3 linked regions of the Homo sapiens genome follow. The protein of the gene in region 2 interacts with the protein of the main gene of each other region in a pairwise test. Each region holds a gene or a part of one and is shown on either strand. Other genes may lie near its edges. The genes, in order: COX11, TMEM132D and SDHB.

Evidence for each region.
Region 1: the proteins of TMEM132D (region 2) and COX11 interact in a two-hybrid assay, tested with the Homo sapiens proteins (one large-scale study listed by BioGRID).
Region 3: the proteins of TMEM132D (region 2) and SDHB interact in a two-hybrid assay, tested with the Homo sapiens proteins (one large-scale study listed by BioGRID).

The regions. Positions count from the first base shown.
Region 1 is NC_000017.11:54,962,737-54,965,759, forward strand, and holds part of COX11 (cytochrome c oxidase assembly protein COX11, mitochondrial), read right to left. Parts: intron 2,117-3,023; coding exon 1,961-2,116; intron 696-1,960; coding exon 570-695; coding exon of another isoform or gene 525-569; exon of another isoform or gene 185-524; intron 180-184; coding exon 1-179. UniProt on the Homo sapiens protein: Exerts its effect at some terminal stage of cytochrome c oxidase synthesis, probably by being involved in the insertion of the copper B into subunit I.
Region 2 is NC_000012.12:129,078,454-129,082,110, reverse strand, and holds part of TMEM132D (transmembrane protein 132D precursor), read left to right. Parts: intron 1-78; coding exon 79-352; intron 353-3,385; coding exon 3,386-3,577; intron 3,578-3,657. UniProt on the Homo sapiens protein: Regulate neuronals morphology via inhibition of the WAVE regulatory complex (WCR), a complex that controls F-actin cytoskeletal dynamics.
Region 3 is NC_000001.11:17,047,436-17,051,092, reverse strand, and holds part of SDHB (succinate dehydrogenase [ubiquinone] iron-sulfur subunit, mitochondrial isoform 1 precursor), read left to right. Parts: intron 1-3,657. UniProt on the Homo sapiens protein: Iron-sulfur protein (IP) subunit of the succinate dehydrogenase complex (mitochondrial respiratory chain complex II), responsible for transferring electrons from succinate to ubiquinone (coenzyme Q).

The sequences.
Region 1 (3,023 bases), on a different chromosome or scaffold from region 2:
TTATATCCTGGAACTGGCAACTTGTGCCCTTCCTTTGCTTCAAAAAAAGTGTAAGAAAGAGTGATAAGATCAACTTTAATCATTCTTGGATCTTCAGCAAATTCAGGATCAATGTAGAAAAACACTGGCATATCTACTTCCTCTTGGGGATTAAGCCTTTGTTCTTCAAAACAGAAGCACTGGAAATTATAGAAAGATTTTAATAACATTTCTATTCTCGTATTACATAACAGAAACTATACAGTTCTTTTATCTTAGCATTCCAGTACACTTCGTGATTTTAATAAGCATACTATTAAATACACAGTTCTGTGATAAATTAAGAGCATCTTTTCATCTCAATGAGTTCTGCTTTAAGGATGAAGAACAAATTCTAATCTTAAAAGCAGATATCCATTTGGTTTGGTTCTCAATCTCTGCATAGCAGGTATAGATAGTGAAGAAAAATAGCTTGATGTTTAGAAGAAATTCGTTTTCAGAAATCACAAGATCTACTAAAACACTAAGTTTCATACTAAACCGTTTCATGTATCTTTATCATATTCTGTAAAGTTTACACTTTGATGTACCTGTATTTTATTGAAATACTGTCCAGCTTCAAATGGAACAATATTGTATGTAGAAATTCCAATTACTGGTTTGTCAGTAGGATTCTTAGCTCTGTAAAACGCCAGTGCAGTCTCTCCTGGCACCACCTGTTTTAAAGAATATATATATTATCAATACTTTGAATCTCACAAAGTTCCTCTTTTCCCTGCTAAATTAGTCTCATTATTTTGCCTATTCATCAGACCATAATACCTAATCTAATGTAGGGTTCAGCAAAATAAATTGTGAATATTACCCATAAACATATCTGAGTTTAAAAACTTACTTGCATATGTCAATGAAGAACCAATGTTCTAATATCCATAATTAGTTATGAACTGTCCTCTTGTATATTTGAGGTCTTCAAGGAATAATCGGCAAATTACATTATTTAAAATGTGTCCAAGCCAATCATATCACAGCCCTAGCCCAACTTTTCTGTAACACTTATACCTGAATGTCATGATTGACTATTTTTTTTAAAAAGATACCAACATTAAACTTACCTTAAAATCAGAATAAAACTGACTGACTAGAACCTTTATTATGCCACAAAGTGTTAATACTTTGGAGAAAATAAGGGAATAGCGAGGCTTAAAAAAATTTTCCAAAGGATATTCTGTCACTTGTACCAATTCAGCCACTAATACCTTTGTATACTACCACGTAATTGGAGAAGATTCATAATCATAACCTATAAAATCTTTATTAAGAGATTCAGTCATGTTTACTAAACTGGGCAAGCACTAATATTTATAAGGCTTTTCCAATATGGGTTGAAATTAACTCACTCTGGCTAATCCTCAATTAATGAGATTTCAGTTAAAATCTTTCTTACAGTTGGTTAAAATTTTAGGAAAGCGTTTAGGTATAGTCTCAGTCTCACTGGAGTATAACATAACTATTTACTACTTATTGATTATTTCAAAGGCCCTCAATTTGTTTTCTTTTAGAAGGACAGGGATACTTTTGATATAAACCAGTAAACTACTCATTGTAACCAATGCTTTTCCACATTTTTCCCATGTCTTCTATGCCTGAGGAAAAGTCAGGAAGCTATATAGCCTGACGGTTACTGCTACTCCCAACTGTTTCACTCATCTAAACTTAATTTCAAAATACTGACGGGTTCCATTACTATAAATTTTTTTATTCCCATAGACTACTTTTTAATAGTGCTTTACACCTAATGTAACAGAATTTATACTTTAACTTTTAAGTTACATGATAGTAAAAGTCAATTTGGAACAATGGAAAATGCCATGTTTTATTAGAATCATAGTGTTAAAATTAGTCCTCTGACAGTTTAAGTGATGAAAGAAAGGAATTTACATTAATAAAGTAATCTTTTAATGACTGGTTAGTCACTTACATATATTTCTGTTTGCTGAGGTCTAAAGTTCCACTGGAGACTTGCATGCACATCTGCATTAAAGCTAATTTTAATGATTCGATCTTTAACAGGCACCATGTTTTCAATCTTGTCTGAGGCATGACCTGCAACTGCTGATCCTCCAAGTCCAGTAGTCTAGAAAAAGATACCAAATATGTTAAACAATACTTTTAGGTGTTGATGATCTATTTATTTGATAAAAGTTTAAAAACAATGTAGTATTTATAATCCATTTGGAGCCAAGTTTACATATGGTAACTGACCATTGCTGTAACTGTGTCAAGAATCTGACTACTTTTGGGATGTCATGAGCCTGTATTTGTTAAAGTCATTCCTATTTTTCAGCAATCCCTTGGTTACCTGGCATGGTCAAAAATGAGTCTGGGAAAAGCAGGTTCACTAGATAAGTCAACTATTATCACTGATAGTCGAACTCACAATTTCCAGCTTAGCCATTTATAAAAAACACATTTCCCTTTATTGCTAGTATTTCATTAATAGAAATAAAATTTACCCATGACCTTGTAATTCCACTGAAAATACTTAACTCAATTTTTCCATATTCCTGTCTGGTCCTTTTCCATATCACAGCTTTTATAATCCAAATAAGATTGTAGCTTCACTTTTATTAACATTCTGCTTTTCTAAGGTATCACAGGTATTTTCCCACGTTGGTTAATGGTTTTGAATCTTTTCTGTACTTCTCTGTATAGTAGAGCTTTTATATAAATCACTAATCAGAGCACCTAATCCCTATGGCCACAGAAATAATCATAGGGCATCAAGAGTATTTATGTCTGACATTTCTTTTATTCATGACAGTTATTTCCTTGACATCACTTTTAAAAAAAGCCCTTACCCAGCACTTTGGGAAGCCACGGGGGGCGGATCATGAGGTCAGGAGATGGAGACCATCCTGGCTAACACAGTGAACCCCCGTCTCTATTAAAAATAGAAAAAAATTAGCCGGGTGTGGTGACACGCGCCTGTAGTCCCAGGTCTACTCGGGAGGCTGAGGCAGAAGAATTGCTTGAACCCGGGA
Region 2 (3,657 bases):
CCCCACCAGGCTCCACACACGGCCCCTTACAGAGGACCAACAAGTAACTGTCTGCAAACTGCACTGCTTCTTTCACAGGCCTGCCGGGGACAGTGAAGAGGAGGAGGATGATGAGCGGAGGGGCCGCGGCTGCACCCTGCAGTACCAGCACGCCATGGTGCGGGTCCTGACGCAGTTTGTGGCTGAGGCGGCCGGCCCTGGGGGACACCTGGCCCACCTGCTGGGCTCAGACTGGCAAGTGGACATCACGGAGCTGATAAATGACTTCATGCAGGTGGAGGAGCCCAGGATCGCCAAGCTGCAAGGCGGACAGATCCTGATGGGGCAGGAGCTTGGGATGACCACCATTCAGGTAAAAAAAAAAAAAAAAATCCCCAAATCAAGATCTCTCTGTCTTCCCACCTCTGCTCTACCTAGAGGAGAAACCAGCTGTTTGTCATTGCTGGGAATGGTATCTATTTTTAGGATGGGTAAATTCAAAGAAATTGTGGAGTAAGCAATACAAGCGATTTTGGCTGGGTGTGGTGGTTCACGCTTATAATCCCAGCACTTTGGGAGGCCGAGGCGGGCAGGTCATGAGCTCAGTAGTTTGCGATTAGCCTGGGTAACATGGCGAAACCCCATCTCTACCAAAAATACAAAAAATTACCCGAGTGTGGTGGTGCATGCCTGTGGTCCCAGCTACTCGGGAGGCTGAGGTGCAAGGATCGCTCGGGCCTGGGAAGCAGAGGTTGCAGCGATCTGAGATCGTGCCACTACACTCCAACCTGGATGATGGAGCTAGACCCCATCTCAGACAAAACCACAATGCAAGCCATGTAATGATGTGATGAGAATCTCAAAATTCCTCACATATTACTTATAGGGGAGAAACTCTGGGCTGGCTCCCATGGTGGCTCACGCTTGAAACACATGATTTTGCCCAAGCCATGGTAGGCGTTACCATCTTGGTAAACAAGCTTTTGAGGTGAGCTTACCTGATCTGAATCACAGGCACGGCCAGCAACTTCCTGCTGAGCCACTTTCCGCCACTGAGCATGGTCACCTAAACCTTCCCACGGCTTCAGGATATTGTGGCCGCCCCTACCGAGTCACAGCCGCGGGCCTGATGAGAACCTGAACAACTCAGAAATGTGCTAAAGGACGAAGTGAAGTGATTGTGCCTCCATATGTCTCGTGGGCCCCTTCTGCTGGGGAGCGGGTGACGGAGAGGACCAGTGGCAACACTTGGGTTTTGAAACACTTTAACAAAACAGTGTTCTGGGAGGCTTGTAAGGGTTTGGTCATTTACCTCCCAGCTGAGAACAAAGCAAGAGATTGTTTTCTTTCTGTGTACATGTAAGGGGTGCAAGTGCAGCTTTGTTACCTGGACATATTGCGTGTCTGCCTTGTTAGTGTAGCCATCACCCAAATAGTGTACATTGTAGCCAAAGGAAGAGTGTATTACTCAGCAGCTGCCCCATCTGCAGGCAATGCGATTGTCTTATCAGGCAATCTGTGAGGTTTCTAAAACAGCTGTGCATGAGGAATCATTATAACTGAGACTAGATTGGATCGTGGAAGATTTAAAACATATCCATTCTGGAAAATTGGCTGGTATATCTAACACTTCATTTTATCCAAGGAGGAAAATAAATGGGTTTGGGCCGTAGACCAGGAGTCGCATGCTCTAATGATCTCTAAAGGCTGAGAAGCTACCATCAGTGAGGAGAGTAGGCTGGGTGTGTGCTGAAAGACAGACAGCAGCTGATTTTCCTCTGAGTGTTAGAGAGACAACAGGGAGTGGTGGTGCCTGTGGAAAAGGGGCAAGCTCTTACTCAGAGCCAAAAGCTGCCAAGAAGAAACGCAAGTCTACTGCAGCCATATGTTGCAATTTTCCAGAAAAGCTGGAAGTCTGTTTTTATATGCAATCTTCTGGCTCTCTAAATGATGGTCATTAATTCTACCTTAAAATATGATTTATGTCAGACAAAACATATCTGTCTCATAGATGAGAGCTTGCAACCTCCACAATTGACTAAGAAGTTGAAAGACCTGAATCCCTACCATAAATCTATAGGCTAAACTGATACTGATGCCCAGAAACTCACAGCGAGATGAGAATTTGGTATTAACATCTTCCCTTAAGTGATAATTTAAGTGCAAAGGGGAAAAGCCATACCGTTCTGAAACCAGGTGTCAGGGAAGAGGAAGTGGGCCAGCTTCCCACACATTAAACATGAACATTATTTTGGTGAGGCCTCTACTCCTGCGAGCCTTGGTTCTTTTCTCTTTTTTCTCACTGTGTCCTCCTGAGTCATAAATTCACTTGTCCACTTTCTTCTGGGGACACACCTCTCATGCTCGCCACCATTTAAATTGTCCCAATCGGACCAGAAAGTGAAGGTGGCATTCGGGTAGAAGTATGGAGCTTTGATTCCTGGTCTCAAAGGGTCCTGGGAAAACTGCTGTCTTGACCTACATCATAAATATCACCAAAAACTTGAAAAGAGAAAGAGGTCGAGAAAGCAGGAGAATGGAGGATGAAGCCCATCTCTTCTAGAAGGAAGGTTGTTATACGGGGCTGTGAGGAGTCTAAGACAGCTGTTTATCATTTGGGCGAAGGGTGAGAGGAGGAAGAAGTGATTCCACAGACGTTCCTCAAAAGCAGGATTTCCTGTTCAGGGTCTAAATTGCACATAAGCCTCATTTTCCAGGTCATTCCAGGTGTCCAGAGGAGAAATGAGGCTTTGGGTTGTGGGCATCAGGCGTAGACATTCAGAACCTACGTTTATCAGAATATGCCCAACGATATTCCTCATCAACAGGCATCATGCGCTGCGTTTCCCAAAGTGTACAGTGTGGCCTCCAGTGACACGCGTGATTGAGATGGACCAGCAGGATCCGCCTTCTAGTTGCACATTGGTTTTTATGTGCAAGAGCGAAAGCTATCAATATGTAACCAGTACACCCAACCCGTCATTCACTGGTGATAGGAAGGCTTTTGAAAAAAACAAATCATTTAAGTAAAATAAATAATTTTAAACAAAATACACACTGTGCTGTAGAAGAATCATAAAGCTAATAGTCGAATGAAAACGTCAGTTCCTCCTGTCCAGGATGGAGCATGGTGGGAAACGGAGCTGATGTGTGGGGTGTGGGGAGAGGGCCAAGCCCTACCTGCCCACTCCTTGACACCACCTTGCTTTATGCAAAAAATGCATTACATTTTCTCAAGCAATACATATGATTCAGAAGGTGGTGTGAGTGGGAAAGGCCTGTTCTCATTCATTCTGGCTCACATGTTGCCCTGCCGCTGCCTGCACACTGGCACTTCCTCCTGTGACTGGAGGCATTGCCTGGACCACAGAAAGCCTTTCCTTGTCATGTCGCTTCTGCCCTCCAGATCCTGTCTCCTCTGTCAGACACCATCCTCGCTGAAAAGACCATCACTGTGCTGGACGAGAAGGTGACCATCACAGACCTCGGGGTGCAGCTGGTGACAGGGCTGTCACTCTCCTTGCAGCTCAGCCCAGGAAGCAACAGGGCCATCTTTGCCACTGCAGTGGCTCAGGAACTTCTGCAGAGGCCAAAACAGGTATGGAGGAGGGCTTGAGACACACTTCAGCAGGGTCCCTCACCAAGTGGATCACACACCAGGCAGGCACCACGCCAGGC
Region 3 (3,657 bases), on a different chromosome or scaffold from region 2:
ATCTTTTTGCACTGTTGCGTTTTATGTTTGCGTTTTCACCACTGGTTATAATGGCTAAAAGGTTGGATTTTTGAATCAAGTGACCTGTGTTGCTATATGATCCTATCCTCGTCTTTTAACTGGGAACAACAAAACATTTTTCATAGAGATGTTATAAAGATTAGAGATTATTTGGCACCGTGTGTGACAGATTATAAAGGTTCGATGAATGAAATCTGGCAAATTTTTAGATATATGTATTCAACGAATTTTTTGGTGGAACACAGATAACATAATCCTGAGAATTAACTCTTTGTACAGACCTCAAGATGAGCAAAGCTCTATCACTTTCAGAACCATGACCACTCTGGTGATTTTGATTTCAGAATCTTCTTTCATTCTGGTAAACCCCCTTTGCCCCACCAAATATTGTATGAAATACATTTTTTTTTTTTTTTGAGACAGAGTCACGCTCACGTTGTTGCCCAGGATGGAGTGCAGTGGCGGAATCTTGGCTCACCGTACCCTCCGCCTCCCGGATTTCAAGCAATTCTCCTGCCTCGGCCTCCCAAGTAGCTGAGATTACAGGTGCCCGCCATCGTGCCTGTCTAATTTTTTTGTATTTTTAGTAGAGACGGGGTTTCACCGTGTTGGCCAGGCTGATCTCGAACTCCTGACCTCAGGTAATCCACCTGCCTCGGCCTCCCAAAGTACTGGGATTACAGGCATGAGCCACCACGCCTGGCCTATAAAATACATTTTTGACACAAAACAAATTTAAATTAGTTGTACTGAAAAAAAAAAAATGATGACATTTTGGGGCACTCCAAAACTGATGTTGGGATATGTCGACTTAGATATTCAGTGTAGTACATCCTGGCATTGCTCTTATTTCACATCATTCATATGATAAGACTTTTTAAAAATTTAAATTAGCTCTAATACAAACTTAGTCTCTTTTGGAAAGATAATACGTGATCAATTATCCGTGTAGAGTGGATATGAAACAGATATTTAAATGTTATAAAGAAATGTTGAAGGGAAAACCTCATTGCAGGTAACCACAGTCATCCCACAGGCCTTGTGGTTCTGATACCCAGCTTGATAGAGCCTAATGCCTGTTGCCCACTGACAATACTAAATCAGGCTTTAGAACTAGGGGGTTATGCCTGGCACAGTGGCTCACACCTGTATGTAATCCAGCACTTTGGGAGGCTGAGGCAGGTGGATCACGACATCAGGAGTTCAAGACCATCCTGGCTAAAACGGTGAAACCCCATCCCTACTAAAAATACAAAAAAGTTAGCCGGGCGTGTGACACGCGCCTGTAATCCCAGCTACTTGGGAGGCTGAGGCAGGAGAATTGCTTGAACCCAGGAGGCAGAGAGATCTCGCCACTCCACTCCAGCCTGGGTGACAGAGTGAGACTGTCTCACAAAAAAAAAAAAAAAAAAAAAAAAAAAAAAGAACTAGGGGATTATGCTCCAGTCCCAGATTCTGTTTAAAGCCCGGTTAGGGGCCAGGCGCGGTTGCTCACACCTGTAATCCCAACACTTTGGAACGCTGAGGCAGGTGGATCACTTGAGGCCAGGAGTTTGAGCCCAGCCTGGCCAAATGGCAAAACCTTGTCTGTACTAAAAATACAAAAATTAGCTGGACTTTATGGCACATGCCTGTAATCCCAGCTACCCGGGTGGCTGAGACAGGAGAATTGCATGAGCCTGAGGGGTGGAGGTTGCAGCGATCCAAGATCGCGCCACTGCACTCCAGCCTGAGCAACAGAATGAGACTCTCCAAAAAAGAAAAAAAAAAGTCCAAGTTAGGGCCAGACACAATGGCTCACACCTGTAATCCCAACACTTTGGGAGGCTGAGATGGGAGGATTGCTTAAGCCCAGAAATTCCATACCAGCTTAGCCAACATGGCAAGACCCTGTCTCTACAAAAATTAGCTGGACATGATGGTGTGCACCTATAGTCCCAGCTACTTGGGAGGCTGAGTCAGGATGATCGCCTGAGCCCAGGAGTTAAAGGCTGCAGTGAGCCATGATCTCCAGCCTGGGCAATAAAGCTAGACCATGTGTCTATAAAAATAAAAAATAAAGGCCGGGCAAGGTGGCCTGTACCTATAATCCCAGCACTTTGGGAGGCCAAGGCAGGCGGATCACCTGAGGTCAGGAGTTCAAGACCAGCCTGGCCAACATGGTGAAACCCCGTCTCTACTAAAAATATAAAAATTAGCTCGGCGTGGTGGCAGGCACCTGTAGTCCCAGCTACTCAGGAGGCTGAGGCAGAAGAATCACTTGAAGTCGGGAGGTGGAGGTTGCAGTGAGCCGAGATCGCGCCATTGTACTCCAGCCTGGGGGACAAGAGTGAGACCCCATCTCAAAATAAATAAATAAATAAATATTTTAAAAAATAAATGAAAAATAAAAGTGTCCAAATTAGAAGTAAAAACTTGAAGTAGCCCCATTTTTTAAAAGGCATATTGTCCCACTTACCCTACTATCTGCCTCAGGCACAGCAGCCACCCACTCTGGAAAATAGTTTTGTCAGTTGCTTAAAAAAAACTAAACTTGTAGCTACCATACAGCCCAACAATTACACACCTGGGTGTTTATCCTGAGAAATGAAGATGTAACGTTCACACAGAAATTTGTCCACAAATGTTCATCTCAGCTTTATTCATGTCACCAAAAATTAGAACACCCCCAATGTCCCTCAGTAGTTACATGGTTAAGCAAATTGTGGTACATGATACCTTGGAGTGCTACTCAGCTATAACAAGAAAAAAGCTATTGCTGTACACAGCAACTTGGATGAATCTCCGGAGAATTCGGCTGAATAAAAAAAGCCAATTCCAAAAGGCTACATACCAGATGATTATATTGATATAACATTCTTGAAATGACCGAATTTGAGAAGTAGAGAACAGATTAGTGATTGCTAGGGCTTACGGAGTACAGGGGAGGTAGGGTGGGAGGAAGTGGACAGGGCTATAAAAGGGCAATGTTAGTGATCCTGTGCTTATGGGAATGTCCCCTATCTTGACTAGCACTGTCAGTATTCTGGTTGTGCTGGTGTGCTACAGTTTGCAAGATGTTCCTGTTGGGGAGACTGGGTAAAGAGTATGTGGGCCCTGGCATGGTGGCTCATGCCTATATCCCAACTCTTCGGGAGGGCCAGGCAGAGGATCACTTGGGGCCAGGAGTTCAAGACCAGCCTAGGCAACACAGTGAGACCCCTATCTCTACAAAAATAAATGTAAAAAAACTAACTGGGCATGGTGGCGCATGCCTGTAGTCCTAGCTACTGGGGAAGCTGAGATGGGAGGATCGCTTGAGTCCAGAAGGTTGAGGCTGCAGTGAGCTGTGATCATGCCACTGCACAATCAGTGACAGAGCAAAACTCTCTCTCTTTTTTTTTTTTTTTTAGCTTGAGTTTCACTTTGTCACCCAGGGTGGTATACAGTGGCACAGTCTTAGCTCACTGCAACCTTTACCTCCCAAGTTCAAGCCATTCTCCTGCCTCAGCCTCCCTAGTAGCTGGGATTACAGGCACACGCCACCACACCCTGCTAATTCGTTTTTTTGTATTTTTAGTAGGGACGGGGTTTCACCATGTTGGCTGGGCTGGTCTTGAATCCCTGATCTCAGGTGATTTCCCAACCTCAGCCTCC